Linked DNA regions of Homo sapiens. The protein of the gene in region 1 purifies or fractionates together with the protein of each later gene. This does not show direct contact. Each region holds a gene or a part of one and is shown in the gene's direction. Other genes may lie near its edges.

The links.
Region 2: the proteins of FNDC3A (region 1) and TRMT61B purify together in Homo sapiens (affinity purification with mass spectrometry, with the first as the bait; one large-scale study listed by BioGRID). This does not show direct contact.
Region 3: the proteins of FNDC3A (region 1) and OAT purify together in Homo sapiens (affinity purification with mass spectrometry, with the first as the bait; one large-scale study listed by BioGRID). This does not show direct contact.
Region 4: the proteins of FNDC3A (region 1) and ENAH purify together in Homo sapiens (affinity purification with mass spectrometry, with the first as the bait; one large-scale study listed by BioGRID). This does not show direct contact.
Region 5: the proteins of FNDC3A (region 1) and IDH1 purify together in Homo sapiens (affinity purification with mass spectrometry, with the first as the bait; one large-scale study listed by BioGRID). This does not show direct contact.
Region 6: the proteins of FNDC3A (region 1) and BZW2 purify together in Homo sapiens (affinity purification with mass spectrometry, with the first as the bait; one large-scale study listed by BioGRID). This does not show direct contact.
Region 7: the proteins of FNDC3A (region 1) and AMOT purify together in Homo sapiens (affinity purification with mass spectrometry, with the first as the bait; one large-scale study listed by BioGRID). This does not show direct contact.

Annotation. Positions count from the first base shown.
Region 1 is NC_000013.11:49,132,510-49,136,967, forward strand, and holds part of FNDC3A (fibronectin type-III domain-containing protein 3A), read left to right. Parts: intron 1-3,822; coding exon 3,823-4,092; intron 4,093-4,458. UniProt on the Homo sapiens protein: Mediates spermatid-Sertoli adhesion during spermatogenesis.
Region 2 is NC_000002.12:28,863,155-28,867,612, reverse strand, and holds part of TRMT61B (tRNA (adenine(58)-N(1))-methyltransferase, mitochondrial precursor), read left to right. Parts: intron 1-2,493; coding exon 2,494-2,596; intron 2,597-4,458.
Region 3 is NC_000010.11:124,408,013-124,412,470, reverse strand, and holds part of OAT (ornithine aminotransferase, mitochondrial isoform 1 precursor), read left to right. Parts: intron 1-270; 5' UTR 271-299; coding exon 300-498; intron 499-3,505; coding exon 3,506-3,730; intron 3,731-3,833; coding exon 3,834-3,929; intron 3,930-4,458. UniProt on the Homo sapiens protein: Catalyzes the reversible interconversion of L-ornithine and 2-oxoglutarate to L-glutamate semialdehyde and L-glutamate.
Region 4 is NC_000001.11:225,516,527-225,520,984, reverse strand, and holds part of ENAH (protein enabled homolog), read left to right. Parts: intron 1-1,419; coding exon 1,420-1,787; intron 1,788-2,994; coding exon of another isoform or gene 2,995-3,678; coding exon 3,679-3,789; intron 3,790-4,458. UniProt on the Homo sapiens protein: Ena/VASP proteins are actin-associated proteins involved in a range of processes dependent on cytoskeleton remodeling and cell polarity such as axon guidance and lamellipodial and filopodial dynamics in migrating cells.
Region 5 is NC_000002.12:208,248,361-208,252,818, reverse strand, and holds part of IDH1 (isocitrate dehydrogenase [NADP] cytoplasmic), read left to right. Parts: intron 1-1,251; 5' UTR 1,252-1,267; coding exon 1,268-1,389; intron 1,390-4,158; coding exon 4,159-4,450; intron 4,451-4,458. UniProt on the Homo sapiens protein: Catalyzes the NADP(+)-dependent oxidative decarboxylation of isocitrate (D-threo-isocitrate) to 2-ketoglutarate (2-oxoglutarate), which is required by other enzymes such as the phytanoyl-CoA dioxygenase.
Region 6 is NC_000007.14:16,687,390-16,691,847, forward strand, and holds part of BZW2 (eIF5-mimic protein 1), read left to right. Parts: intron 1-2,407; coding exon 2,408-2,517; intron 2,518-4,458. UniProt on the Homo sapiens protein: Translation initiation regulator which represses non-AUG initiated translation and repeat-associated non-AUG (RAN) initiated translation by acting as a competitive inhibitor of eukaryotic translation initiation factor 5 (EIF5) function.
Region 7 is NC_000023.11:112,812,619-112,817,076, reverse strand, and holds part of AMOT (angiomotin), read left to right. Parts: intron 1-1,199; coding exon 1,200-1,719; intron 1,720-4,458.

The DNA of each region.
Region 1 (4,458 bases):
AGCACAGTTGTAGCACACAACTCTGACACAACATTTTAAATATTCTGACATCTAAAAATATCTCCAGACATTTCCAAATGATCCCTAGGAACCAAAATTAGTTCTGGTTGCAAACTGCTCTTGCAATGTTCTGCCCTGTGGCCCCTGACTTCCTTGTCCCATTGCTTCCCCTTAGTCCCCTTATTTCTTCAGTTTTTCAAAACCACCAAGTTCTTTCTTGCCTCGGTCCCTGTGTACATGGTGTTCTCTCTGCCTTTTCTGTAAATTTCCTTTAACCTTTGGATTTCAGTTTTCAGAGAGACCTTCCTGATCTTACCTTGTTAGTCTCTAGCACTGAACTTTGTATCTTTCACAGAACTTAACACAATTTCTTTTTTGTCATTGTGTATTTGTATGGCTGTCTCCCTTATTTGACTATCAACTCCCTAAGAACTGAATCTATTTTAATCACTATTGTTTCCCTGCACTTAGCATTGCCTGTCACTTATGCTCAGTACATTTGCAGAAGAAATAACTTCAAATACAAAATTGAAATTACACAACACAGCCTGTAAATAGTGGATATATTGTACACATCATATGTATTTGTCAAACTTATTTCTATTGCCCAAGTAATGCAAATTGGTTCAGTAGCTCTGGGTAGTGCTTGAGATTCTGCATTTCTAACAAGCCCCTAGGAGATGTTCATGCTGTGCTCCAAGGAACATACTTTTGAGTACCAAAAGTTTATACTGCAGATTAGTCTCATCCTATTTTTGTTTACTGCTAATTATGACTTAGTTTTAAAAATATTAATTTTTTCTTATAATCTGAGAAAACTATAAGAAAAAGCTAGTATTACAATTATTACTATTTTGCATTGTTAAAACCCCTTGTTATTCTGTAGGGATATGCATTAGAATACATGGATGTGATCTACATTGATATGAAGGAAAGTGAAGGGCACAAATCCACAAATTAGCTACCCAGTGGTAAAAGGGAGGAGTCATGTTGTACTTGAGGTTATAAGCCAGAGATTCTACCACTAAATGCTAATTATTGACAGTACTGGTTTTCTAACCAATGGCTATACCTCCGTGATGTCCTTTCCATGCACAATCCATATGGATTCTCAAAGTGGAATCTGATCCAGCATTTCACTGTTAGCAGTACCATTAGTGAGCCTGAACCTTGCTAGGCACTATGCTCACACATGTATTATCTCACTTAATTTTCAATAAAATTCTGCAAAATTCAAATGAGGAAACCGAGGCTCAGAAATGTTAAGTAATTTCTGCAAGGCCACACTGCTAGTTAATTGCTCAGAATTTTAACCCTCTCAGATCTATTCAATGATTAAGTTCCTTCTCTTTCTACTATAATATATTCTTTTTTCTCTTCCATGGTAGCTTTATTATTTTGAATAATAGATAAAGCATTTTAAAGTATGTACTAATTGATCTAATTGATTGCAGTTGCTATTTTTCTTAACTTTTTGTCGAGATATAATTTAGGTAACAGTTCATCATTTTACACTTCAGTGGTTTTTAATATATTTACTTTATTGTGCAACATATGCAACTCAATGTTTTCTATATTCAGTATGTACTGTATTAAGTACCACTGTCTAATTCCAGAACATTTCTATCATCCCAAAAAAGAAACTGTGCATATTAACAGTCAGTCCCAACTCTCTGTTCCTTCACATCCCATGATCTACTTTCTGTCTGTATGGGTTTGCCTATTCTAGACTTCATATAAATATACATATAAGTATTTCATATAAAAATTTCATTAAAATGTTCATACAGTATGTAGACTTTTGTGTCTAGTTTTTTTTCACTTAATGTCATGTTTTCAAAGTTCATGTTCTCACATATAATAGTACTTCGTTCCTTTTTATGGCTGCAATAATATTGCATTCTGTTGATTACATTTTATCACTCATTAGCTGATGGACCTTTGGGTTGTTTTCACTTTTTGTCTATGAACAATACTGCTGTGACCATTTGTGTAAAAGTTTTTGTGTTGACATATTTTCATTTCTTCCGGGTATGTGCCTCAGAGTGGAATTGCTGGGTCATATGTTAATTCTATATTACTTTTCCACAGTGACTACACCATTTTATATTCCTACCAGCAATGTATGAGGGTTCCAATTTCTTTGCCAAAACTTGATATCGTCTGTCTTTTGATTGTAGGCATCCTGAATAAATTTCTCTCTCATTATGGTTTTGATTTGCTTTTCCCTAATGCTACTAATGTTGATCATCTTTTCATGTGCTTATTGGCCATTTGTATATTTTCTTTTCCTTTTTTTTTTTTTTTTTTTTTTTGAGATGGAGTTTCACTCTTTTTTTTTTTTTTTTTTTTTTTTTGAGACAGAGTCTCGCTCTGTCGCCCAGGCTGGAGTGCAGTGGCATGATCTCGGCTCACTGCAACCTCTGCCCTCTGCCTCCCAGGTTCAAATGATTCTCCTGCCTCAGCCTCGCGAATAGCTGGGATTACAGGTGCGCGCCACCACGCCCGGCTAATTTTTTGTATTTTTAGTAGAGATGGGATTTCACCATCTTGGCCAGGCCGGTCTTGAACTCCTGACCTTGTGATCCACCTGCCTCACCCTCCCAAAGTGCTGGGATTACAGGCGTGAGCCACTGCGCCCAGCCCCATTCATATATTTTCTTTGGAGAAATGTCTATTTGAATTCTTCACCCATTTTTTAAATGGGTGGGATATTTGTCTTTTTATTGTTGAAAGGTAAGAGTATATATATTCTGGATACAAGTTCCTTATCAGATATATGATTTCCTCCCTTGTTGTTTTTTCACTTTCCTTGTGGTATCCTTTAGTGCAGAAAAGTTTTTAATTCTGATGAAATCTAATTTTTTCTTTGATTGCTTGTGTTTTTGGTGTCTCGTCTAAGAAACTATTGCCAAATCCAAGGTCATAGAGACGTGTTTTCTTCTAAGAGTTCTATAGTTTAATCTCTTACATTTGGGTCATTGATTCATTTGAATTAATTTTTGTATATGGTGTGAGGTAGAGGTCCACGTTCATTCTAATGTTATTGTACATATCCTTATAATACTCATTTCAAAAATACTGTACTAATTTTCTTAAGGCACTGCTAAATTAAAACTTTTTACTGAGGCTTTTAAAAAATATTTTTCTCATCACAAATTTTAAATTTAAAAAACTCTGGGGACAATTGAATTAATATTTATTGAGCATAATGACTTAATTATGTTCCTATGTGACTTTTATTAGAATGAGTGGATTCTTCTAAATCACAACCTTGAGTTTATAGTATCTGAAGATACATTATATGTAGATTGTTATTGTTAAACAGTCTAAATCATTTCTTTTGGCTAACTTTTTTTCAGTGATGATTGCTTTTTTGAGTTATAAGGGAATTTAGGCAGGCAGTGGTTTTCTTTTTACCTATTTTATGTGTTTAAGGTTCAAAAAGATGTGAAAAGTAATAGTTACTAAAGAGTAAAAGAAAAAGAACTGTGGACTGCTCAGCTCCAGTCTCATTCCTCACCTACAATAATCATAAGTTACCACCAAGCTGTTTCTATGGAGATTAATAATTAGTTGAGAACAGAAGGAAATAAATCTCTCTGTAAATTTACTTGAGAGAGAGATATATATAATTAGAATAAATCACAAAGCTTGGTTCTGATAGTTTATGGAGACACAAAGGTTGCTTTGTTATGCAAAATTCTTTTAAATATTTTATAAAAGTTTTATATGATAGATTTATTTTCTGTTCTTTTTTCATGGCATAAACTTATTTGGAGAAAGTGATCTTCTTAACATTTTGTTTTTATTGCCTCCTAGATGCTCACTCTACACATGGAAGGTCCAACTTTAGAGATGAACGATCTAGTAAAACATATGAACGTTTGCAGAAAAAATTGAAGGATCGCCAAGGAACACAGAAAGATAAAATGAGCAGTCCACCATCATCACCCCAGAAATGCCCTTCTCCCATTAATGAACATAATGGACTTATAAAAGGACAAATTGCTGGTGGTATAAACACAGGATCAGCAAAAATCAAGTCTGGGAAGGGGAAAGGTGGTACACAAGTTGATACAGAAATTGAAGGTAACTGTTTGAAGTACTGAACTGTTCTCATTGATGCTATTCTCGTGATTTAACCTACTAAAAGTATATTCTAACCTTTCAGTCATTTTGTCATGGTCCAAATAGACTGTTACAGGCTGCTGCTTTCGACAGTTTGGAAAGCCTCAATTAGTAATTTCATCTATATCGTAAATTTTACTGACTGAAATTTCTATTTGATAGGAAAACTCAGAGAACATTAATCCAGATTCCTTTCTTCTGATTCTGGGCGTTTGATAAGGCTATGCTGCTGGTTTTTAATCAAAACTTTTTTTTTTTGAGACAGGGTCTTGCTTTGTCACCCAGGCTGGAGTGGCACGATCATAGATAACTGCAGCTGGAAACTAC
Region 2 (4,458 bases), on another chromosome or scaffold:
AGATAAAAGTCACATTGTTCCACTCTAAGGAGGAATTTAAGTACTAAATTTGTTAGGTGTTGACTTCTCTTTATAGCTTCCAAGTAATGGCTGGAGATAGTTTTACTTCAACTTCTACAACTTTGAAATGCTTGAGGGAATACCTTCACTGATGTTTAAAAACTGATCTCCCTGTTAGAATTACATAATTCCATCTTAGTATTAAAAATATGACCAGAGGCAGAGTGCAGTGGCTCACACTTGTAATCTCAATATTTTGGGAGGCTGAGGCAGGAGGATCATTTGAGCCCAGAAGTTTGAGACCAGCCGGGGCAACATAGGGAGACCTTGTCTCTACAAAAAATAAAAAATTAGCCAGGTATGCTGGCACACACTTGTGGTCCCAGCTACGCAGGAGGCTGAGATGGGAGGATTGTTTGAGCCCAGGAGTTTGAGGCTGCAGCGAGCCATGATCTTGCCACTGCACTCCAGCCTGGGCAACAGTGTAAGATCCTATCTCAAAAAAAAAGTGAGGGGGCAGGTGCCGTCACTCACACCTGTAATCTCAGTGCTTTGTGAGGCCAAGGCAGGAGGATTGCTGGAGGCTAGGAGTTCAAGACTAACCTGGCCAACATAGCAGGACCCCATCTTTATAAAAAATAAAAAAAAAATTAGTTGGGCATGGTGGTACATGCCTGTGGTCCCAGCTACTTTGGAGGCTGAGGTAGGAGGATTGCTTGAGCCCAGAAGTTCGAGGCTGCCGTGAGCTACTATTGCACTACTACACTCCAGTCTGAGTGACAGAGACCCTGTCACCAAGAAAATTTGTTTACTAAATTTAAAAAAACAGTTTTTATTAATATCATCCGTAATATTTGTGTTAACAAAAACAATTCCAATTATATGTTTGGCAAGTGGGTCCTCCAATCTAGTAATAGCATAGTCTCTTTTTTTTCTTATATAGCAGGGCTCCCCTACCCCCAGGCTGAGGACTGGTACCAGTGTGTGGCCTGTAACAGGGAACCGGGCCACACAGCAGGTTAGCGGTGGGTAGTGAGCATTACTGCCTGAGCTCCATCTCTTGTCAGATCAGCCATGGCATTAGATTCTCATAGGAGTGCAAACTCTTGTGAACTGTGCATGCACCAGATCTAGGTTGCATGCTCCTTATAAGAAACTAACTAATGCCTGATGATCTGAGGTGGAACAATTTCATCCCAAAACCATCCCCCTCTCCCCAGTCTGTGGAAAAACTGTCTTCCACGAAACGGGTCCCTAGTGCCCAAAAGGTTGGGGACCGCTGTTATATAGTATCTTAATTCTAAATTAGAAGTTCATCATTTGGCCAGGCACGTTGGCTCACACCTGTAATCCCAGCACTTTAGGAGGCCGAGGCGGGCAGATCACCTGAAATCAGGAGTTTGAGACCAGCCTGGCCAACATGGTGAAACCCCATCTCTACTAAAAATACAAAAAATTAGCTGGGTGTGGTGGTGGGTGCCTGTAATCCCAGCTACTTGGGAGGCTGAAGCAGGAGAATCGCTTGAACCCAGGAGGCGGAGCTTGCAGTGAGCCAAGATTGTACCACTGCACTCCAGCCTGGGTGACAGAGCGAGACTCTGTCCCCCCAAAAATAAGAAGTTCATCATTTTGAGCTGGGCACACTGGCTCACACCTGTAATCCCAGCACTGTGGGAGGCTGAGGCGAGCGGATCACCTGAGGTCAGGAGTTCAAGACCAGCCTGGCCAACGTGGTGAAACCCCATCTCCACTAAAAATACAAAAATTAGCCGGGCATGGTGGCAGGCACCTGTAATCCCAGCTATTCGGGAGGCTGAGGCAGGAGAATCGCTTGAACCCGGGAGGCGGAGGTTGCAGTGAGCCAAGATCGTGCCATCACACTCCAGCCTGGGGGACAAGAGTGAGACTTCGTCTCCCAAAAAAAAAAAAAAAAAAAAAAAGGAAATTCATCATTTTATGCAGAGATTATATAGTAAATTCCTAACTGGTCTTCCTGCCTCTTGATTTTTCTCCAGTAGATCCTGTATTCTTCTGCCAGATTAATCCTCATAAAATGCCATTTATATCACCTCAGTGACACACCCTAGTTGCTTATCAGGCTGAGTTCTAATGCCTCATACTGGCATTTAATTCTCTGCCTATCTCTCCTGAGATAACAAACTGGATTTATTCTACCTCTGCTTTGTTTAAAGCTGTTTTTACCTTGTGATTGTTCCCATAAATTGTCTACTCTTTGTCTTTAAACTAGGCCATCCTGCTACTCTATGAACTTATTGTCTGTAATTTTGGTATTATTCTGAAGTGTTGCCTTATTTGTTAATTGATTCTTGGATCTCTTTTATTTCATCAAGTGAAATATAAACTGAAGGCAGGTCCAGAGTCTGATTCGTTTTTTCACTCCCTTCTTCTGCACACCCAACAATGTAAGATAAGACTAGGTGCTTAGTACATATTTATTGGTCGCTGAGTCACCCATACTGTTTTCAATCATAGGATATTAATATGATTCTCTCAATGATGGATATCAACCCAGGTGATACTGTTTTGGAAGCTGGCTCAGGCTCTGGTGGAATGAGCTTATTTTTATCCAAAGCAGGTAAGAGATTGGACTGAGCTGGATCTCAGTAACAAAGAAAACATTCAATTTGTTCATAATAACAGAAAGGTATAAAGATATTTGGGAAAATACCTAACATTGAGGTAGCATTCTCCTAGAATCTGAAAGTAAGCAACTATTTTTCTTTCCATTCTGTACATTTATTCCAGTCAGTCTCTTTCTAATCCTCCCTCAATTTTCTTTGCTTTGTTTTACTTTCTCCATGCTCTCTAATGCTGCTTCTTTTTTCTTAAGTATACTTTTTATTGGAATATAATATGGCTACAGAAAAGTGTGCAGATCATAAGTGTATATCTCAATGAATCTTTGTATAGTGACCACTCATGTACTTATTACCGAGATCAAGGTAGGGAGTGTCCCTGCCCCACAGATGCCTCCTCATGTCCCCTCCCAGTCCTTATCATCACCAAAGGAAACCACTATTGTGACTTTTATCATCACTGATTAGTTTTGCCTCCTTCGAACTTATATAAAATGGAATCATACAGTATGTGCTCCTTTGTATCTGGCTACTCTCATTCATTATTATGTTTGTGAGATTCACTCATTGCATGCAGCAGTAGTTCTTTCATTTTAGTTGCTGTATAATACTCTCTATTTAAATCACAATTTACCTATTTTACTGTTGATAGACATTTGAGTTGGATATTACAAATAGTGCTGCTTGGAACCTCCTTGTGTACTTGTCATGTTATTGTTGAATACTAGTGCCAGGTGAATACTTAGCCTGAGGGAATATGGAAGGACGTTGTCAGCTGTTGGGGGGAGAGTTATATATCGTTAGGGCCAAAGAATTATAGTAGGTGTTCATAAAGAAATTAATCATAGTACAGAGCTATTAAGTAAAAAGCTAGATCATGAAGAATTATCTTTTTTTTTTCCAGAAAGTCTCTAAAAATTGTCAGTTGGTAAAAGTACTGCTTGAAGGTGGGTGTCTGATCAAAAATCAAGAGGTGTATATTAAACATATATATTTTTTCATGTTCCTACCACTTAATTTCTAGTTACTTTTATGCTAGTTGATTAGTACCTCTTTGCCTACCTAATTTCTCTGAGTGTCAGGGTTGCTTTGGGTGGTCTGTCTGTGCAGTGTTCTCTTCCCTACATAATACTAGACTGCTGAATAGTCACAGTACTTTCTTTGAGTAGATTTTATAAAGATTACAGATAGAAATATGCTGAAATTAAACTCACACCTTTTGTTCTTTGACCTAATGTCTTCACATATGAATATTATCTAGATTATACTAAGCCGGTAAATTCATTCTGGGCTCCTCAATCAATCTTTTGTTTGACTTTTCTGTACATAGTTAAAGGCAGTCATTTTCTCATCATCTATGACAAATTCCTAACTGCACGGTTTCATTTGACAAAGTGGATTTATAAAAATTGGTGAGAACAGATAAGTGCCTATATTTCTAAAATATATAGTATCAGAAGAGTGTCATGGCTTGAATAATCCTAAACTATAAATGTGCAAGAACTTATTGCTATTTACCTATGTGATGGATATTTTTCTCCATATTTTCTTTTCCAGTTGTTTATGTTACTTTTTTTTTTTTTTTGAGGCGGGTTCTCACTCTGTTCCCCAGTTTGGAATGCAGTGGTATGATCGTGGCTCACTACAGCCTTGACCCTCGGAACTCAAGTGATCCTGTCGTCCCAGCCTCCCAAGTAGGTGGGACAATAGGCACATACCACCAAAGCTGGCTAATTTTTAAAGTTTTTGTAGAGACTGGGTCTCACTGTTGCCCAGGCTGGTCTTGAACTCCTGGCCTCAAGCAATCTTGCCTAAGCCTCCCAAAGTGCTGGGATTACAGGCATGGGGCACCACGCCCAGC
Region 3 (4,458 bases), on another chromosome or scaffold:
TGGCACAATCTCAGCTCACTGCAGCCTCAACTTCCGGGCTCAAGCAATCCTCCCACCTCAGTCTCCTGAGTAGCTGGGACTGCAGATGCATACCACTACACCCAGCTAATTTTTCAATTTTTTTTAGTGATGGAGTCTTGCTCTGTTGCCCAGGCTGGTCTCAAACTCCTGGGCTCACGTGATCCTTTGACCTCAGCCTCCCAAAGTGCTGAGATTATAGGCATAAGCCAAGGATTCTCACTCTTAATGCATTCTCTTTTCTTTGGACAGATCTGTGGTTTTTCTACTTGAAGGACACAATGTTTTCCAAACTAGCACATTTGCAGAGGTTTGCTGTACTTAGTCGCGGAGTTCATTCTTCAGTGGCTTCTGCTACATCTGTTGCAACTAAAAAAACAGTCCAAGGCCCTCCAACCTCTGATGACATTTTTGAAAGGGAATATAAGTATGGTGCACACAACTACCATCCTTTACCTGTAGCCCTGGAGAGAGGAAAAGGTACGTTTCAAATTAATCCGTCTTTTCCCTTTTCTTGAAACCTTTTATAAAAAAAAATTGCTTCCATATTTTCACAATATACATTTTTCTAGATGTGTTTAATGTGTATATTGCAGACATGGTTAATTCTTCTTCTTCTTTTTTTTTTTTTTTTTTTGAGACGGAGTCTCACTCTGTCACCCAGGCTGGAGTACAGTGGCACAATCCCAGCTCACTGCAACCTCTGCCTCCCAGGTTCAAGCGATTCTTCTGCCTCAGCCTCCTGAGTAGCTGGGACTACAGGCGTGCGCCACCACACCCAGCTAATTTTTGTATTTTTAGTAGAGATGGGGTTTCACCATGTTGGCCAGGCTGGTCTCAGACTCCTGACTTTGTGATCCTCCCACCTTGGCCTCCCAAAGTGCTGGGATTACAGGTGTGAGCCACCACGCCTGGCCAGTTAATTCATTTATTGAGTGTCTAGTGCTGCTGTGTTAGGTGCTATGGAGGCTTCAAAGAGGAACCATTGTCTTTGTCATGTAGACCTTACCAAGAGGGAATGCAAGAGAAATAAGGAAAGTACTATCATATTGCTGTCATTTTTTTCTTTTAACTTTTATTTTGGCATAGTTTTAGACTTAAGAAAAGTTGTAACAAATAGTACTGACATTTTCCTTTTATACTTCTCCCAGATTTTCCAAGTGCTAACTTTTTGCTGCTTTGGTCTTAGTGTGTTCACTCCCTTCTCTTCTCCCCCCGCCGCCTGCATATTCTACATTGTTTTCTGAACTGTTTTGAGAGGAAGTTGCAGACATGACATCTCTTCTTCTTTTTTTTTTTTTTTTTTTTTTTTTGAGACGGAATGTCGCTTTGTCACCCAGGCTGGAGTGCAATGGTGGGATCTCGGCTCACTGCAACCTCTACCTCTCGGTTTCAAGTGATTCTCTTGCCTCAGCCTCCCGAGGAGCTGGGACTACAGGCCCACGCCACCACGTCCAGCTAATTTTTGTATTTTTAGTAGAGACAGGGTTTCATCATGTTGGCCGGGCTGGTCTCGAACTCCTGACCTCAGGTGATCCACCCACCTCAGCCTCCCAAAGTGCTGGATTACAGGCGTGAGCCACCGCGCCCCGCCACATGACATCTCTTTACCCATAAATACTTAGTGTGTCTTTCCAAAAACGCAATGACTTTTTGAGATAGGGTCTCATTCTGTTGCCCAGGCTGGAGTTCAGTGGTGTGATCATGGCTCACTGCAGCCTGGAACTCCCGGCTTCAGGTGATTTTCCCACCTCAGCTTCCCAAGTAGCTGGGACTACAGGTGTGCCTTACCATGCCTGGCTTATTTTTTGTAGAGATTAGATTTTGCTATGTTGCCCAGGGTGATCTTGAACTCCTGGTCTCAAGTGATCCTACCACTCAGCCTCCCACAGTGCTGGGATTGCAGGTGTGAGCTACTGTGCCCAGCTGACTTTCTCTTTTATAACCATAGAGTAATTGTAAAAATCAAGAACTTAACACTGGTACAGCACCATTAGTCTAGAGACCTAATCCAGATGTCATTTGTTCTCTTTTATAACAAAAGAAAAACCTCCGATGAGTTGCATTCAGTTGTCATGTTTAGTCTTCTTTAACCCAGAACAGTTCCTCAATCCTTGGTTGTCTTGGTCTTCTTTCCCTTTGTATTAAGTATCTTGTGGGGACAGAGTGTAAAACTCTGTAAATATCCAGTTACTCATGAACTTTTACTCACAATTTCAGCATCCACTAATGATTCTTGCCTGAATAAATGATTACGGTGGTAGTTGCCAAATGGTGATTTAATCTACAATTTGGAATAAATAACAGCCTTAACCAAATAAAACCAAAGTTTATTACTTAGCTTTGTACCAGAAAATGACAATATAAGAGTATCACACATTTTGGTCATTTGCTTGTATTTTATTTGGTACCAGTACTGTAGACATATCTTCTTTTGAACTATTGAAAATCTGTTTCATATTACATGACATGGCAACCTTGTTTTTACTTTCCCACTAGCAATGTATGAGAGTGCCAATTTCTTCAGATCCTTGTCAAAAGTTGTTTTTTTAATTATAACCATCCCAGGGAGTATGAGATGGTATCTCATTGTGGTTTTAACTTGCATTTTCCTAATGATTAGTGATGTTGAACATCTTTTCATGTGTTTCTTGCCATTTGTATATCTTCTTTGAAGAAATAGCTATTCAAGTCTTTCCCCATTTTTTAAATTGGGTTGTTTGTCCTTTTGAAATTGAGTTGTAAGAATTCTGGATATTAGATCCTTATCAGACACATGATTTACAAATATTTTTTTTCCATCCTAAGGGTTATTACAGTCTACTTCTCATGATTTTTGTCTGTTATGTGTAACTTCTGCTTTTTTATTTTTAAATTTTATTTATTTTATTTTTTTTTTTTATAGGCAGGATTTTGCTCTGGTGCCCAGGCTGGAGTGCAGTGGCACAATCTCAACTCACTGCATCCTCTACCTCCCAGGCTCAAGCAATCCTCCCACCTCAGCCTCTGTAACGGGACCATACGCGCGCACTACCATGCCCAGCATTTTTCTGTAGCGTCAGGGATTTTGCCGTGTTGTCCAGGCTGATCTGGAACTCCTGGGCTCAAGCAATCCCTGCCTTGGTCTCCCAAAGTGCTAGGATTACAGGCGTGAGCCACGGCTCCCTGCCTAACTTCTGCTTTTAAATTCTAATTTTGGATCCTAAATCTTAGAATTAGGTAAAGGTTTTACTCCAGAGTTTATAACCTTTTTGTGTTATTTTTGTTAAATGTGTGTTTTGAAGCTGGGCAGATAAAATACAATTCTTAGTAATTCCTTACAAACCAAAGTTTATTATGCCTGAGCTAAAACAAGCTTTAACTACAAATATGTATTAAATAGAGGTTCATATATAGGCATTCAGAGGGCTTGCTAGCACTCTTAATTTTTGGACTTTATGCCGTATAGTAATTGTCTAAAATTATTTTCCTTTCTTATGTATTTTAGGTATTTACTTATGGGATGTAGAAGGCAGAAAATATTTTGACTTCCTGAGTTCTTACAGTGCTGTCAACCAAGGGCATTGTCACCCCAAGATTGTGAATGCTCTGAAGAGTCAAGTGGACAAATTGACCTTAACATCTAGAGCTTTCTATAATAACGTACTTGGTGAATATGAGGAGTATATTACTAAACTTTTCAACTACCACAAAGTTCTTCCTATGAATACAGGTAAAACATTTCCTTTTTTTGTTAAATACCCTCAAAAATAATCTTTTTATTTTTTGATAGTTTAACATTTTAAAAAAATCTGAACATTTTTCTCTCCTGATAGGAGTGGAGGCTGGAGAGACTGCCTGTAAACTAGCTCGTAAGTGGGGCTATACCGTGAAGGGCATTCAGAAATACAAAGCAAAGATTGTTTTTGCAGGTATGTGAAATTAAATATTAACTTCTATGATTGAAACATACAATATAATTTACTGTGGCCAGGCATGGTGGCTCATGCCTGTAATCCTAGCATTTTGGGAGGCCAAGGCAGGAGGAGTCTTTGAGCCCTGGAGTTCAAGACCAGCCTTCTGGGCAACATAGGGAGACCCTGTCTCTATTTAAAAAAAAAAAAAAAAAATATATATATATATATATATATATATACACACACACACACACACACACACACACACACACTTATATATTTTATATATAAAAAACATATATATATGTGTAAATTTACTGTTTTAATTTGCTGATGAAATACTTGTAATATGTTTTGCCTGGTACATGATACGTATTTGCTGAATGTTTCATAAAAATTTATGAGGGATTTCCTCTTCTTGGGATTATTTCTTCATATATGAGATTTTTCTTTCTGAACTCCATATTCCTCTCATTTGCCTGTCAGATTTTTTTCATAGCAGTTATCCAGTTAATTAGATAGTCTCACTGGTGGAGGGTTTGTG
Region 4 (4,458 bases), on another chromosome or scaffold:
ACTTATGTCTCCCTCCCTCCCTCCCTCCCTCCCTCCCTCCCTCCCTCCCTCCCTCCCTCCCTTCCTCCCTTCCTTCCCTTCTTTTTCTTCCTTCCCCGCTTCCTCCTTTCTTTTCTTTCATTGTTTTTGGAGACAAGGTGTCATTCTGTTGCCTGGGCTGATGTGTGATGATGCAATCTTATCTTACTGTAGCCTCAGACTCCTAGGCCCAAGCAATCCTTCTCCCTCAGCCTCCCAAGTAGCTGGGAATACAGGTGCATGGCACCATGCCTGGCTGATTTTAAAATTTTTTGTAGAGATGGGTCTTGCTTTGTTGTGCAGGCCCATCTTGAACTCTTGGGTTCAGACAATCCTCCCACTCAGCCTCCCAAAGTGCTAGGATTACAGCTGAGCCACTGCTCCCAGACCAACTTTCACAATATATTAAGTGAGAGAAAGGAAAGCAGATTTCACAGTAGCGGGAAATGGTTACATTTTATTTTGTTTTTAAAGTTTATATGTGTATTTTTACACAAGGGGAAGTCTAGAGGTATATAGGGGTGCGTGTGTGCGCGTATGTGTATATATAGATGTGTGTCTTTATATACATATGTTGATGATAGTTGCCTCTGGATATGAGATTTCAATCATTTAAAGTTTATTTCTTCTTTCTTGACTCTTTTTCATTCAGTAAACTTTTTTTTTTTTTTTGAGGTGGAGTCTTGCTCTGTCACCCAGGCTGGAGTGCAGTGGCACGATCTCGGCTCACTGCAGCCTCTGCCTCCCAGGTTCAAGCGATTCTCCTGCCTCAGCCTCCCAAGTAGCTGGGATTATAGGCGCACGCTACCATGCCCGGCTAATTTTTTATATTTTTGGTAGAGATGGGGTTTCACCATGTTGGCCAGGCCAGTCTCGAACTCCTGACCTCAAGTGATGCACCTGCCTCGGCCTCCCAAAGTGCTGGGATTACAGGTGTGAGTCACTACACCTGGCCCATTCAGTAAATATTTATTGAGCTATTGCTGTGGCCAGTCATTGTATTTTCTGAAATATTATTTGTACAATTAAATTTGATATTAAGGATATTACAATTACAAATGTTTTCACTAAATAATTAAAATAATGACTTGGTTATTAAAGTGGTATGTTATTTGGAAAATTCATTTACTTGCAACACTACTCATGAAAAGTACAGAATAAAATGAAATGTTAGTGCAATGTGCTGAAGCATTCAGCCAATATGATGCTAATAGGAGAAATGATTTTCATTTGTATGAAACAGTCTCTATCCAAGGTAGCCTTCATGTGGGAGGAGAGATGTTTGCATGCTCTACATTGCTTTTATTTGACTCAGAAATAGTTTACATAGGTGAAAAGAATCGCTTTTTCATGATGAGTAGCCATAGATGCATGTTTTTACTTTTTTTTTTTTTTTTCCAGACAACTACAAGAACAGCAACGGCAAAAGGAGCTGGAGCGGGAAAGGCTGGAGCGAGAAAGAATGGAAAGAGAAAGGTTGGAGAGAGAGAGGTTAGAAAGGGAAAGGCTGGAGAGGGAGCGACTGGAACAAGAACAGCTGGAGAGAGAGAGACAAGAACGGGAACGGCAGGAACGCCTGGAGCGGCAGGAACGCCTGGAGCGGCAGGAACGCCTGGAGCGGCAGGAACGCCTGGATCGGGAGAGGCAAGAAAGACAAGAACGAGAGAGGCTGGAGAGACTGGAACGGGAGAGGCAAGAAAGGGAGCGACAAGAGCAGTTAGAAAGGGAACAGCTGGAATGGGAGAGAGAGCGCAGAATATCAAGTGCTGGTAAGAAGTTTACAAACTCTTCTGTGTTCTTGTATCTGAGCTTGGATGATGTCTCTTGTGCAGTCATGTGTTAAAATATTTCACATTTGAGATGTTTGGGATTAAGCCATACAATTTGAAATTATGAATAAATATGCAGCAATTACTACTTTAACATTTTCTTTTTATTTCTCTCTGTATTGCTTTTATTGCTTGGAGACTTAAAGAAAGCTCTTGGAAATTTTTATTCTGCCATTCTAATTCTTCTAACACCCTATAAAATGGCTATAAAGTGTAAGTGTGTTTTTATGGGAAATTTTTTATACTGGATGAACTTCAAATATATTTCCCTCATGAGATCACTTAAATTGTCTCAAATACTATAGTACTGTAGTACCATTCAGCAAGAAATTTGCTTGATTGCATTCTAAAGATTTTGGAGGAAGAATTATTTTAGAGAAATATTCTCTAAGACTAGTTATTTAAATATGCTTTCTAGTATTATGAAAAATTAGTGAAAATTATGGAATCTGGAATTTACTGAAAGACATAAGGGTTAATATATGGCTGAAAGTTTGAGATATTTTAACGTTTATTAAAATTAACATTCATTATAGGATTTAAGAATATTCCTTATGGCCTAATTAAAAAGTCTTAATGTGGTTTGATTAAACAGTGGTTGGTTGGTTGGTTTATTAAGTTAATTTATGTATTTTTAGCTACCTAATTATTTTCTGGAGTTATGGCCAACAAAACAAAACTTTTCCACAAGTTAGCATTGAATAGGAGCATTGAACCCTTCATATTAAATGTTTTGCCAGCTTTACTAGTTTTGCTATTTGTTGTTTTTAAAAAAACAACTAAATTTATTCTTCTGTTTATGGTCCTATTCATGTGATTTTAATGTCCTTTTTCTTGTAGACTAAATAAAAATTAAGACTAATACTAGCTTTTTCTTGTAAAAGAAATTAGTCAATTAAATTTATTAATCCACTTATTAGATAAAAGGAAACTTATTTCATCCCCTTCTGAATCTCAAAATGTATTTACAAGTTAAAATATTCTTGGGTGAAAATAGTTATTTGCGTTTGTGCCTAATTCTCTGATACTAACTGTAGTCTACATTTATACATTGTGTCTGAATGCTGGTTTTGTGGCTTCACTAGCTCCCTTTTTCTCTCTCCTTTTTTATCCTGTCTTTTGCTGCTGCTTTCCACCTTCTGTCCAGCTCCATCTTCAGACAGCTCCCTGTATAACGCTCCACTTCCTGAGTATTCCAGTTGCCAGCCTCCTTCAGCACCTCCTCCATCATACGCTAAAGTCATCTCAGCTCCAGTGTCAGATGCCACTCCTGATTATGCTGTAGTGACTGCTTTGCCACCTACTTCCACACCCCCTACACCACCACTGCGACACTCAGCGACACGTTTTGCAACATCTTTAGGTTCAGCCTTCCACCCTGTTCTTCCCCATTACGCTACAGTTCCTCGTCCTCTGAACAAAAACTCTCGACCTTCTTCTCCTGTGAACACACCCTCTTCTCAGCCTCCAGCTACGAAGCCCTGTGCCTGGTCTACTTCCAATTTTTCGCCCCTCCCTCCATCTCCTCCAATAATGATTAGCAGCCCCCCAGGCAAAGCTACTGGTCCAAGGCCTGTCCTCCCTGTTTGTGTTTCTTCTCCTGTGCCCCAAATGCCTCCATCACCGACAGCACCCAATGGGCTGGTTGACTCTGTAACATATCCAGTGTCTCCACCGCCTACCTCAGGGCCAGCAGCTCCTCCGCCGCCGCCTCCACTGCCTTCCCTCGCATCACTCTCACACTGTGGATCTCAAGCTTCTCCTCCTCCAAGCACCCCTATTGCCTCAACTCCCTCATCCAAGCCTAGTGTTCTCCCTTCTCCCTCTGCAGCTGCCCCTGCCTCTGTTGAGACTCCTCTAAACTCTGTGCTGGGAGACTCTTCTGCTTCTGAGCCAGGCTTGCAGGCAGCCTCTCAGCCGGCCGAGACTCCATCCCAACAGGGTAAGGCTTTCATTATTGCTACTAACAGCTAATCACTTGAAAATGTTATATAGCAGTGACTTTAATTGCCTGAATGGATGGGTAGGATGGTTTTGATCCTTGAACATTTATATGCCATAATGCCATGCTTTTTTTTTTTTTAATTAAAAAAATTAAAGTAGAAAAATGTTTTTCCTGTTGGATTAATTGCATTTGGAGGAATTTCCTTATTGAACTAGGTTTTGATATCTTTTATAGTATCGCAGTTAAAGATGTTTTCTAGTATTTAAGAGCCCCTCATAATACATTTCTTTATTTTTTTCTTTTTTTTTTTTGTTTTTTTGAGACAGAGTCTTGCTGTGTTGCCCAGGCTGGAGTAGAGTGGCACGATCTCAGCTCACTGCAACCTCCACCTCCCGGGTTCCAGCAATTCTCCTGCCTTAGCCAGCTGAGTAGCAGGAGTTACAGGCACATGCCACCACGCCTGGCTAATTTTTGTATTTTTAGTAGAGACAGGGTTTTGTCATGTTGGCCAGGCTGGTCTTGAACTCCTGACCTCATGTGATCTGCCCCTTCGGCCTCCCAAAGTTGCTAGGATTACAAGTGTGAGCACCGCACCCAGCTAATACATGTCTTTCACTGGGAAAACTTTGCTTGACACGTTGATCTACCACACAATAAATACATGAT
Region 5 (4,458 bases), on another chromosome or scaffold:
GCGAATTTGGGAAGTGAAAATGGGCCTGGGGATTGGAAATACATCCAGGCTTGTCAAGAAACAGACGCTTACTGTCTACTAATCATTACATTTTTATTTAAAGACCAAATTACTTTAGCTCAATTTTTCAAGAAAGACTATTTTAGGCTTCTTATCTAATAATTCTTTAAAGTCAATTCTCTTGACTTTTTTAGTCCTTAAGAGAATAAAAGCAATTTGCAGCTGTGTTGTTGGATTAAAAAAGAGTTTCGATTAGAGCATCATTAGAAGGAATAGATAACTTTTAGCAGGCTCAGAGCTTCTTCTGCCTCTAGGGACAAGCTGGGACAGTTTCATTTCTTCCAAAGCGTCCAACCTTGCACTTTCTGAGAATCAGATTGATTTGTATATGCTACCCCCACACCCTATCCTTAAAGTGCTGTCTTCCTAGGACAATGCACAGTTTGTCCTATCCCACTCACTAGCAGCTTACCCTTGCCTGTGAACAGCCAGAAGAAGATGACAGGGACATGCTTGGGTCCTGGGCAGTGGCCCTACTGTATAGAGATTCTTCTAATTGAGAAATCACTTTGTTGTATTTAGCCCCACATCTCCAATGTCTGTGTTATCTCTAGGAAAACAGTTCCACCAGGAATTCTTCGTCTCGCTTTTAGACTTAAAGTTTCCCTGAATATGGGTCACAGGAACCAGCTGAATCTCCTCATGGCTAGTTATTTTTATTAAATAACAAAAACAGCCTCTTAAAGGAGGAGAAATGCTAGCACTCACCATTCTGGACATCTTGAGAGCCCAGTAAAATGATGAGTTGGACTGAAGTGTTCAATAAACATGAGATTGTGGAAATAATCTCATTTCTTAAGACAAACCAGTAGTTGAGAATAATGATTGCATTATGAAGGGCACGTTATAGGGTCAGGCTCTGCCACGCTCTAGCTAGGTGGCCTTGGGAAAGCTCTTTTTTTTTTAACAAAGTAAAATGGGGAAATGATGGCCATTTTTTTGGATTGTTATGAGGGCTAGCTCAGAAACCGCGTGTGAAACATAACACAATACTTTGTTCAGAGAAGATACTCAATTCTAATGGTAAATAGAATTGCTGTTACTAGCTTTTTATTCAACTACACATAAATTGAATTGCATGAATTGTTCTTTTAGTAGTCACTACGTTGTTTATATAAACACTACGTTGTTTATATATTTCACTTTATAATGAAATAAATGACAAGGCATGTATTTTTTTTTTCTTTTTAGGTTTATTGAAGTCAAAATGTCCAAAAAAATCAGTGGCGGTTCTGTGGTAGAGATGCAAGGAGATGAAATGACACGAATCATTTGGGAATTGATTAAAGAGAAACTCATTTTTCCCTACGTGGAATTGGATCTACATAGGTAAATGAGTTACCCCTCCGTGTAGCAAACTCAGAAAGGATAATCTGGCTGGGCATGGTGGTGCACACGTGAAGTCCCAGCTACTTAGGAGGCAGAGGCAGGAGGATCCCTCAAGACCAGGAATTCAAGTCCAGCCTGGGCAACAGAGTGAGACCCCATCACTTTAAAAAAAAAAGGAAAAAAAAGGGAAGGAGAAACAGGAAAAAAAAAAAGAATATAATCTGAATTATTTTGAGGTGAAGTTAGCTTTTTTTATATAGATATAGCTGTGTTTTGTGAATAAAGTTTGTTTTAAGCCTAAATATATTCAGATGAATCTTCTAATTTTAACATACTGCTAGAAAAACTGGATTTATCATCTAAAAGTCAAGAATTATAAGGGAAAGAATGATTTTCAGATTCTTCTAACCTTCTGTTTCCTGTGAAGGTTTTATTTGTAATAAAACAGTGGCTAAGAATAGTACAATGTATTGAGAAAAGGGAAATAAGAGAGGATGTAAGAAACAGTAAACTAAATGCAGTTAACACAATTTTGTCATTTCAAACTCAATTTTCTATCACTTTACTTAGTCAATGGACCTGTTTCCTTTTCATGCCTCACCTTTTGCCCTTTTCATACAATTGTAGTGCAGAAAGAATTCATGATGTTTCTTAGTTGAACCCCTCCTTTCCAGCAAAATTCCCTTAAATCCTGTGTCCCTTTGCCCTGTGTGTAAAGTGCCTGGGGACAGATGCAAAAGTCTATGTAATTCTCTCATTTTTTTCGCTGTGTTTTTCATAAACTTGCTTCTGTTCTTTGTACCTTTAGGTAGAGATAGAATTTTTAAAAGGGTAAAGTGGCTGAAGACTGGCATAGAAAAATATTGAGCAACACGTTTCAGCCAAACTATTGGCAACTCTAAGTGTGTTTGCCTCAGCCCAGAATTAGTCATCAAAATTTGTCCTAAGGACCTGTTTGAGTGGAGACATTTAATTCACATAATGTCATTAAACATACTTTTTAATTGTTCTAAACCTAAGCTGCTGATGTCTATATTGAAATCATGATAAGATATAAATACTTGCAGAAGTCAACCAAACATAAGAAATTAGGCATAAAAACATCTTCCAACTAGGTTAAAAAAAAAAAGCATCTTAGGAACTCCTGTTTCAGGACTTTACATGACAGTAGGTGAACTGGCAGGGTTCTTTTCCTTATAATGGCTGCAACTAAAGATGCTTTGAGCCTCTTTAGTGTGGAATCATGAGGAGTTTTAAAGGGGAGTCACTATGACTAGGAGGAAAAAATTTGGTGGCTGCAGACTAGATAATTTTTGGAGGCTCAAACAAGTTTTAAATTTTTCCAAAATTCCTATTATTATCACTGACTGGTTCTTTTTCAGGAGAATGGAGCAGGTAGTTTGTTTTATGTAGGCTGGACAGTGGTCTGGGCAATTTGTTCCTTCCTTTCTTATCTTCTTAGAAATGTTAAGAAGACAAGCAAAAAATCTAATAATTTGCTGATAGATTCTCCTTATGAGAAATGGTTCCTAGGAACTTGAAAACTACTGATCATACTTCCTGTTGGAGTTGGGATTGGATCAACATTTCCTATGCAAGAAGATAACAAAGGACATGACTTTGTTAGATTTATATGAATTATCTAAAGTCGAAGCAGTTGGAAGTTATTTTTATTTGGAAATATGTCAAGATTACTATCTCTTTGTTTGCATCATGAGTTGGGTAGGAGATCTAAGAAAGGAAGATAAGGGAACCAAAAAGAAATCTAGAGGCAGGTTTTAAGAGCTGAAAAACCTTTTAAATCCTTGGAGAACAGAATAAACAAAACATTATTTTGTTTTCTTGCTTTTTAACAAACTATTGCATGCTTCAAATAAAGCTTTGCAGTCATTTTCTATGCTCCCTGGACAACTAACATTCTTTCAGCTCTGAATGACCTGCAATCTTTGTGTTGGTGTATATTAAGCTATTACTCTCTGGTATGTAGAAAACCATTGATGGATTCCTTTACTTACCCAATAAATTGTAGGCTTGTTTCCAGAGCAAACACTTGCTCAAGAATTACAGAAGGAATTAGCTGGGCATGGTGGTGCATGCCTGTAGTCCCCGCTACTGGGGAGGCTGAGGCGGGGGAATCACTTGAACCCAGGAAGGCAGAGGTTGAGTGAGCCAAGATCGTGCCACTGCACTCCAGCCTGGGCAACAAAACGAGACTCATCTAAAAAAAAAAAAAAAAGGGAAAGGCTCATTTTATGACTAACTGGCATTAATGAAGTAGTCATTCGCATTTTTGGCATCAACTGTCACATCTTTACCTCCCACCACTTCAACGTCAAAATACAAAAAATCCTTTAACCCCTCCCACCCCCTTTTATTTTTAAAGAGCAATATTTACTAAGGGAAAAAGGTGGTCCTTAGACTTACACTTATTATACTAATTATATGGAGAGAAACCAGGCCATTATTGCCTCTATCTGGTGAAAAACAGGAGGCAAAGGGCAGAGTTTGATGGTTTCCATTCATTTTCCTGATAGACAGCTTCCCATTACAAGAGGAGGGGCAGCCCAGCAGTCTAGCCTCTCTTAGTTCTCTTTGTAGTTGGCACCCATCTTCTGTGTTTAGGGTGTGCCAGTGCTAAAACTTGGCAGATTTTGGTGTACTCAGAGCCTTCGCTTTCTGCATAATGAGCTCTATATGCCATCACTGCAGTTGTAGGTTATAACTATCCATTTGTCTGAAAAACTTTGCTTCTAATTTTTCTCTTTCAAGCTATGATTTAGGCATAGAGAATCGTGATGCCACCAACGACCAAGTCACCAAGGATGCTGCAGAAGCTATAAAGAAGCATAATGTTGGCGTCAAATGTGCCACTATCACTCCTGATGAGAAGAGGGTTGAGGAGTTCAAGTTGAAACAAATGTGGAAATCACCAAATGGCACCATACGAAATATTCTGGGTGGCACGGTCTTCAGAGAAGCCATTATCTGCAAAAATATCCCCCGGCTTGTGAGTGGATGGGTAAAACCTATCATCATAGGTCGTCATGCTTATGGGGATCAAGTAAGTCA
Region 6 (4,458 bases), on another chromosome or scaffold:
AGAGGTTTAAACCCTTGCTTCCTAATTGGAAAAGGATTAAGAAAATGCTGGGTATGGTAACTCATGCCTGTAATCCTAACACTTTGGGAAGCTGAGGTAAAAAAATTGCTTGAGGCCAGGAGTTTGAGACCAGTCTGGGAAACAAAGCAAGACTCTCTTCTCTACAAAAAAAAATTTAAAAACTAGCCAGGTGTGTTGGCACACCTGTACAATCCCAGCTGCTCAGGAGACTAAGGCAAGAGGATTGCTTGAGCCCAGGAGTTTGGGGCTACAGTGAGCTATAATCACATCATCTTACTACAGCCTGGGCAACAGAGAAAGACTATCTAAAATAAAAAAAAAGAAATAAAGAAAATGGTTAAGAAATTAATCATTTTCCCCAGCTCATCCAATAAATGACCAAGGGAGATGGGATTATCCTACTCAGAGGAGTAACTATAAAGAAAGTTAAATCTCAGTTTTAGGCTCCTAGTTTCAAGCGTAGTTTTTCTTTACGATACAGATTACAGCCTAGTGTTAATTTATATTAAATTTTATATTGGTTTTATGAGCTAATGATAATGCTAAAAATTCATCTTAAGTTGTTTAACATGAACTTTCAGTTAAGGTGTAATGCATGTTTTGTTGTTATAGCCGTTTTTGTTTTTTTTTTAACTTAGTTTCTTTGCTTATTCAAGGGAAGAAAATCAGGTTTAGTTGGTGTCTATATGAATGATAGACCAATTAAATGCTTTTACTTTCCAGTTGCTGGAAGACCTGGGTCAAATTGGTATATAAGGACATGGATTTCTTATGTAACAATAAATAGAAAATTAGGACAGACCTCAGGCTGAACAGCAGTATCATTCAGGACTTAAGTATTTTTCTCCTGTTATCATTCATAGCATTAACTTCATCCCAAGGATGGTGCCCCCTCTAGTTGTTATAAGATGCCTGCTGACACAGTTATGGCATATTCTTCCTGGTTCAGGTTCAGTGGAAGAACACTTCTCCTGAACAGAGGATAATTTATCTTTCCTTCAGCTGATTGGCTGACACAGGCTGCATGACTAGTGCAGGTCCAGTAGCAATTGCCAGGGGCGTGCCTTGGGCAGATGAGCTTAAGCGAGGTCACTAAATTAATCATCAGAAAGGGGTGGTACCAGGACTTAGACTAATCAGTAGTCACCTGGACTGGATAAAAGGGGACCTCTTTTAGGAAGGAGGTAAAGAGAATAGAGGCTGCTTAGGCCACATTATCATTAGCTCATAACAATAGTAGAACCTTCAGTTTAGAAAAATCAGTTAAATGTTTCAGTTACATCTTAACTCTTCATTAAATAACCGCAACATAAATTTAGAAATTTGAAGTGTTCATAGAACTGTCTTCTTGTTATCTGATTATTTCTATTTGGAAATAAGTGGTAATGTAAATGTGGACATGTGATTAAATGGTTTCCTGATTTAACATAACTAGCTTAATAATGATTTTTTTTTAAATCCAGAAGAGTTTAACTTGAAACAGCCTTGGTATTTTTATAGCTTAACTCAAGAATATTTTAAAATGCTTTTTATGGCTGCGTGCAATGGCTCATGCCTGCAATCCCAGCAATTTGGGAGGCCAAGGCAGGTGGATCACCTGAGGTCAAGCGTTCAGGACTAGCCTGCCCAACATGGCGAAACCCTGTCTCTACTAAAAATACAAAAATTAGCTGGGTGTGGTGGTGCATGCCTGTAATCCCAGCTACTTGGGAGGCTGAGGCAGGAGAATCACTTGAACCCAGGAGGTGAAGATTGCAGTGAGCCGAGATCGTGCTACTTCACTCCAGCCTGGGCGACAGAGTGAGACTCCATCCCCCCAAAAATAAAAATAAAAATAAATAAATAAAATGCTTTTTATAAAAAGCAAAACTAAGGTAAATGATATGTGTTCATCTATTCGTAGCAATACTTATTGTATCTATCACTATCAGTGTTCTTGTACTGGCATCCTTTATTAGCAAATTACTTGATAAAGGTGACATTACAGTTTTGTGTCTCCTAATTTACTTTCTTGTGCCTCAAGATCACTGTTATAAAGATGAAATACATATGAACCAGAGGGTGAAATAAAGGCAATAACACCAAAGATACTGGGTGTGAAATATGTTTTTGACCAAGGTAAAATAAAATAAACTTGCAGTTAGACCAGGTTGGATTCAAGGAGTCCAAATTTGAAAAATATTTTAATTTATTTTCCTTTTCCTGAAAATGTTCTAGTTTGAGTAATGAGAAGAGGAGAATTTGCCTAGAGGTCTATTGACTTTTCATTTGTACCAAAATTAGTCTTTTAGTTATTTACACATTTCAGGAAACCTGGTTGCTTTGCACACCATCACAATTGGTTTTGCTCGTAAAAGGAATGAAATTCTCTTTTGTTTTTCAACAGGCATTGCGGCCTCATTTGCTGTCAAGCTTTTCAAAGCATGGATGGCAGAAAAAGATGCCAACTCTGTTACCTCGTCTTTGAGAAAAGCCAACTTAGACAAGAGGCTGCTTGTAAGTGTTTTCTGGTTAAAGAGTTGTATGTATGATGCCTTTCTTGGAGCTTAAGCAATGCCTGCAATGTAGTATATGAGTAAGATCCCTGGATCTGTGTTGACTTGGAGCACTGTTCCTTTTATTTCTGTGTAATTGGTAGTAGAAGCTAATTTCATTTTAATCTTTATTTTGTGAACAAATGGCACAATAAAATTAAAGAATTGTGAAGAATATAGACTTCCAAATTTGTAAGTTTGTTGACATAGTATTAACATTTCATCAGAATTAAGACTTTGTTTTATAGCCATAACTTTTTTACTTTTTTTTTTTTTGAGACAGAGTCTGGCTCTGTCACCCAGGCTGGAGTGCAATGGCACAATCTCGCTCACTGCAACCTCTGCCTCCGGAGTTCAAACAATTCTCCTGCCTCAGCCTCCCGAGTAGGTGGGATTACAGGTGCTCTCCACCACACCCAGCTAATTTTTGGATTTTTTTTAATAGAGACGGGGTTTCACCATGTTGGCCAGGTTAGTCTTGAACTCCTGACCTCAAGTAATCCGCCCACCTCAGCCTCCCAAAGTGCTGGGATTATAGGCGTGAGCCACCACACTCAGCCTATAATCATAACTTTCTAGACATTTTAAGGTTTTAATATGATAAAAATTTCATCAATCTCACTTAATCAAATACTTGTGATGTCTGTCTTGAGTAGCAGTCAGACTGTGCTAATCTCAAATGTGTGTTAAATAGTTTGCTAACAAAATAAAAGTTTAAACAAGATTTCCCTGGAAATACTTAAGCTGTTGCAGAAATTAAACAAGTTAATTGTGTCACAATTGCTTGATTATATTTTTATTTCTCCATCTTTGTGTTTTTCTAAGAAAATCCAGAAAAATATTTTGTTCTTGTAATTTCTATCTGCTCCCTACAATTTCTTTCTTCTTGATGCAGCAGCTGTGAAATGCCAAGATTTCTCCAGGTGGAATTGCTTTTACAGTTCTAGGATGAAGTGTAAAAATAAGACACAGCGCTGCCATCTCTTCACCTGGCCTGTTCTCTGTTGTTCTCTTCCAATGTGTTTCAGTGTGCAAGGGTCCAGTCCCATGAGATAATTCTAAGACTATCTCTTTTCCTCAAGAACACATGAAAGTAATTTTAAATGTAAATACTTGCAATTTAAATCACTTAAGAATACTTTGTTTCTTGAAGTTTACCTTAAATAGATTTGTGTGTTTAAAGTTTTTAGATTATGGTAAAAAAGGTACAGAAGTCTAGATTCTAGTTCATAATAATTTTCATTCCTCATGTTTCCTGAATGTCTACCCTGTGCTGGGCATGGTACCACAAGCTGCAGAGCCAGTAGAGAACAGGATAGAAAAGTTGCCTGCCCTCGTGAAACCTACTTTCTAGTGGACTTAGGGCAAATCCCTGTAAACAGAAGCAAAAGTCACAGAAGATAAGTGAATAGGTTGCTGAGGAAGGTGGAGGTTCATATGAAGGGAACATATTTCTTGTCCATGAGGCTGTGGGTTGTCTATAGATTAGCTCTATCTTGGCTAAGCCTGGCTTAGTTCCACATGCCTTTTCATTCGGGCACAGGCTGAGGGAGCAGCTCCCATCTGGGCCATTCTGTCTTCATGGCAAAGTACCAGAACACAGAGACTGAACTGAACGTCTCAAGTACCTTAAAAACTCACCTATGGACGCTGCCATGCCTGGCAATAGATTGGGAAAATCCAATCCACTAATAGGCTGCTTCTCCACCTCTGCAGATAGACATAGCAAGGAGGGGGTTCTCTTAATACTCTTTTGAAGAAGAGAAGGTGTATGATTGGGAACAAAGATACAATCTATCCGGTTATTTCTTAAAGCAGTAATTTTCTTAAAGATATTCACAACTATAGCCTGGTTAGCTTAATTAGATGGCTTCATTTATAAAATTCATTTTCTTTTTGGAAA
Region 7 (4,458 bases), on another chromosome or scaffold:
CAGGACATGGGAGCATATGAGGTTAATTGGGCATGAGCTAGGGCATGAACAAGCTTTTTGTCTTCAGTGCACACTGACAGATACTATTCCTGGTAGTGGTGATGGTGGAAGTGATCCATCCACATACTAATTGTTTCCCTTAATGGCTAATAGTCATTAGGTATGAATTATTTATACTTAGGTGTTAGCATTTTGTACCTGGTAATTAGGTACAAAAATGGGAGAGCCACATTAAACAATGTACCAAAGGTCTCTTTCTGGAACTTTCTATGAGCAATAGGTTGGAAATCTAAGTATCAGTGCACAGAAATCAATGCATTATGGCAGTAGAAAAAGCCAGAAAATGGGAATTGGGAAAGAAGGATTCTATCTTGGCACCACCACTCTAATATTTGGCAGATGACTTCCCCTTTCTGGACCTCATTCCCCATCTGTCCAGTGATAGAGTTGAACTAAATAATTTTCTTTTAAGGCCTTTCCAGTTCTTACATTTTGCGATTCATTACATCAAAAATAGTATGTTAGCATTGCTTGTAACCCTCTTCAAGTCTTTTTATGGTTACTGCTAATGGGAATCATTAAATCGTTAACAACTGGAAGCAACAATAATCATTTAGTGTCTCTAATATAAGTATCTACCAATCCTTGAATAGTTTTTTTTCTTTTTTTTTGTGAATGTATGAATTACTAAAGGGAGTTGCAGATAGCAAGATGGGGGTGGTTTTTATGGCTGTTTGTTGTTTCCATCCTGGCAAATGGAACATAGTTTCTAAACTAGGATCTTTATGTGTGCTGGACCACGTGTATAATGTCAGAAAAGGTTTAATTTAAAATAATGAGATGAAAATTACCTTGTAGAAGAATCGTTTGAAATGTTTAGACTTGAGCAAACGGGTGTACAGGTGTGTATCACTACGATTTTCACAAAGTGACCATGGAAGTTGTCTGGTTCTGACCCTCATGGGATCACACCTCTGTTTGTCAGGCAGAGGCACAGAAGGTCAGGCTGGAAAAGGGCTGTGGTCTTTGCAGAGATAGAGCAGGCAGGGTTAGACTTCCCCATAGTCAGACCCTGCCTGCTCTTCATTTTGCAGGTGTCCTGGGGGCATCAGAAGCCTCCTCATCTCACTTTTGTGTGCCCTTCTCCCCCAGTGCCTTAGGAGAGAAATTAACCCGCACCTGCCCTTCATGTTTTACAGGCCAGCGCAGGACATCTCATTGCCATTGTCAGCCAGGAACTCGCAGCCTCACAGCCCTACTTCTTCTCTGACCTCTGGGGGGTCCTTGCCCTTGCTACAATCTCCACCATCCACTAGATTGTCTCCTGCCCGACACCCCTTGGTCCCAAACCAGGGAGACCATTCAGCTCACCTGCCTAGGCCGCAGCAGCATTTCCTTCCTAATCAGGCTCACCAGGGGGATCATTACCGTCTCTCCCAACCTGGCCTGAGTCAGCAGCAGCAGCAACAGCAGCAGCAGCACCATCATCACCATCACCACCAACAACAGCAGCAGCAGCAGCCACAGCAGCAGCCAGGAGAAGCCTATTCAGCTATGCCTCGGGCTCAGCCATCCTCTGCTTCTTATCAGCCAGTGCCAGCAGACCCTTTTGCCATTGTTTCCAGAGCCCAGCAGATGGTTGAGATCCTCTCAGACGAGAACCGGAACTTGAGGCAAGAGTTGGAAGGATGCTATGAGAAGGTGGCAAGACTGCAGAAGGTGAGGCTTCCGTTTTGGGATATTAGGGTCTCTAAGTCTTTATTTGTGAGACTTGTTTAATATCCACATTAAAGTCTCCAGTTGTGAATCCCAGCATTACTTGTGGCAGGTCTTCAGGATTTTTATATCTGAAGGTTAGATATGAGTCAAACTTTGGAAAAAGCCTTCTACCTGTCTACCTAGGAGAAGTAACGTCTTACATTTACACAAGGAGAAAAAAATTTATGCAGTTTTTCCAGACGCTATAGCCCTAAAGAAAACGTGATTAATTCTTTTAGAATTCCAAAAGGCAGTGATACTTCTTGATAAGAATACTGGTGATGCCTTTATAGGTAAAGGATCTGACGGCACCTTAAGGCTCATTGTCTTGGTCACATTTTCCCAAATATGAATTTGAATCTTAAATATAAAAATAAATGTAGTTCCTAGAAAAATCTCACCAGCTAAAGTTTGAGCAGTCCTGCCTTGTTCTGGAAAAGGCTCAGAATACTTTTTCCTAGTGGGAGTTCTCATAGTAACTCTCTTTCAACAATCCCTCCACCCCACCCTTTGATTTGGTCCCTCCCTGCAGCTCAAATTCAACATCTGCTCTCTTTCTCTGTTGTATGTGGGGGGCAGGAGGGGCTTAACACCACAGCTGGGTGACAGGTGACAGCCCTAGGCTGAGGAAATAGAAAAAGGAGTGTATCTCCAGTTCACATTCTTCTCTGCCCACCCCCATTGGGACTTTACCTCTGGAGTACCCCAAGCGAGGAACCTTAGCTCTTGGCTTCCAGGGGCTGCTGGTGAATAGGGTTATGCCTTTGGCCGCTTCTTTGCAGCTTTTGTCATTGTGGAGCTATTGTGGTTTGGTCTCCCTACAATGTGAACTGTTCAGAGAGGTGAGGGTGAAGGTGGGGGAGGGACAGGAGGATGCCTTGTATTGTCCAGCAACTCTGTCCTTAGGAAACACCAGGAGTGAAAATTTCAGAGGCCTGAATGAAGCTGAGTATTTGTAAACAGACACCAAATCTGGGGGCCTCAAGGAGACAGGGGCTTATTATCAGCAGATGATTTTTTTTCTTTCTTTCTTTTTTTTTTTTTTTGAGACGGAGTCTCGCTCTTGTTACCTAGCCTGCAGTGCAATGGCACGATCTCCACTCACTGCAACTTCCGCCTCCTGGGTTCAAGCAGTTCTCCTGCCTCAGCCTCCTGAGTAGCTGGGATTACAGGCATGTGTCACCACGCCTGGCTAATTTTGTATTTTTAGTAGAGACGGGGTTTCTCCATGTTGGCCAGGCTGGTCTCGAACTCCCGACCTCAGGTGATCCGCCCGCCTTGGTCTCCCAAAGTGCTGGGATTATAGGCGTGAGCCACTGCGCCTGGCAAACAGAGGATTTTTATATAGGAAAATGGCTTCCCTGTCCCTTAGTTTTCCTAAATCTGGATGAGGGTTGTTGGAGTGCTCTGAGAATTGTTTCTTCCCGGCTTTTCCCTGATTTTGTATTTTCACCCGCAAATTTTAACTATATCCCTATCCCCATCGCTTTGGTGAAATAAATTAATTATATCCATACACTAGAAACCCAGTCTGGCTGATTAGGCTAACAGTTGACACCCCCTCTCCAAACTCTCTCTTCATGGTGATCCCAGCCCATCTTTGATACAATCACTGAAGGATGAACCCAGCTCTAATACGGGCCCTTTTTGCCAGAGGATCCATGGTGATTTTTTGTGTGTGTGGGAGTGGGTTCAGCCAGTGACAGGGAAGAGGGACAGAGAATAGGATTGCTGTTGTTTGTTCCCCAAGATGGGAAAAGATGCCTCAAATAAGTGTAACTGGAACAGCTTGAATGTTGGGAAAGTAGAGGCTGACCCAGTGTCGAGGTAGAGTAGAGGGGAAGGTGGACCAGGAGAGGAAAAGGAAAGTGGGGAAAATTAAGGTAGATCCCAGGTAGTGCTGGAGGAAATGAAAAGGCCTGAGGCTCATGAGGGGAATAAGTAGACAGAGTAAGTCTGGAAAACCCACTGCCACCCTCCTCTCTGCCCCCACCATCACCCAGCCCAAACCAGTGGATATATCCTTCTGTGATGGCTTTTCCTGGAAGGCCCTATTGAGAGCTGTGGGACTTGCCCTTTTGAAGGATGGAGTATCTACACAGGGGGTAGGGGAAGGATTAGTACAAGATCTTGAAATAGCAGTCTGCACACCTTGAGGAAAGGGACTACCTTCTAGGTGTTGCATTCTGTGCACAACCGGACAGCCTTGAACTATAAATGCTGCCCAGAGCAGACCAACACCAAGCCTGCTCTTTCAGATGGAAATGTTTATTTTCTCTCCCCAGCGCTTGAGTTTCATGCAAAAGCTTCATCAGGCGCAGGCCTTGCAGATCTTGTCTCTAAATGCCATTCACCAGTTTTCACCTTCTGTGCTGCTATCTTGGTGCCATCTGTGAAGAGAAAAACACTTTTGAGTCTGCTCTTTTCTGTGGCATAAGCCTTATTTGTTTGCAGGCAGTCCTGTCTCTGGCAGAATTTTGGAGATGGAGGCGGGTTGAATCTGACTGGTTTGGCAACCTTACCTTTCCCCTAGTGTCCCATTAGGGGCCTGATATTTCTTCCCTGAAAGTACCCTGAGCTTTGTTAAACAGGATAGTGGAAAACACAGAAGCAATGCAGAATGGTTGCAGAGTCCAATTTAATCTGAAAATTGCTTAATAGACCGTGGGTTTATTTGTCTTATACAAATTATATGCAAAT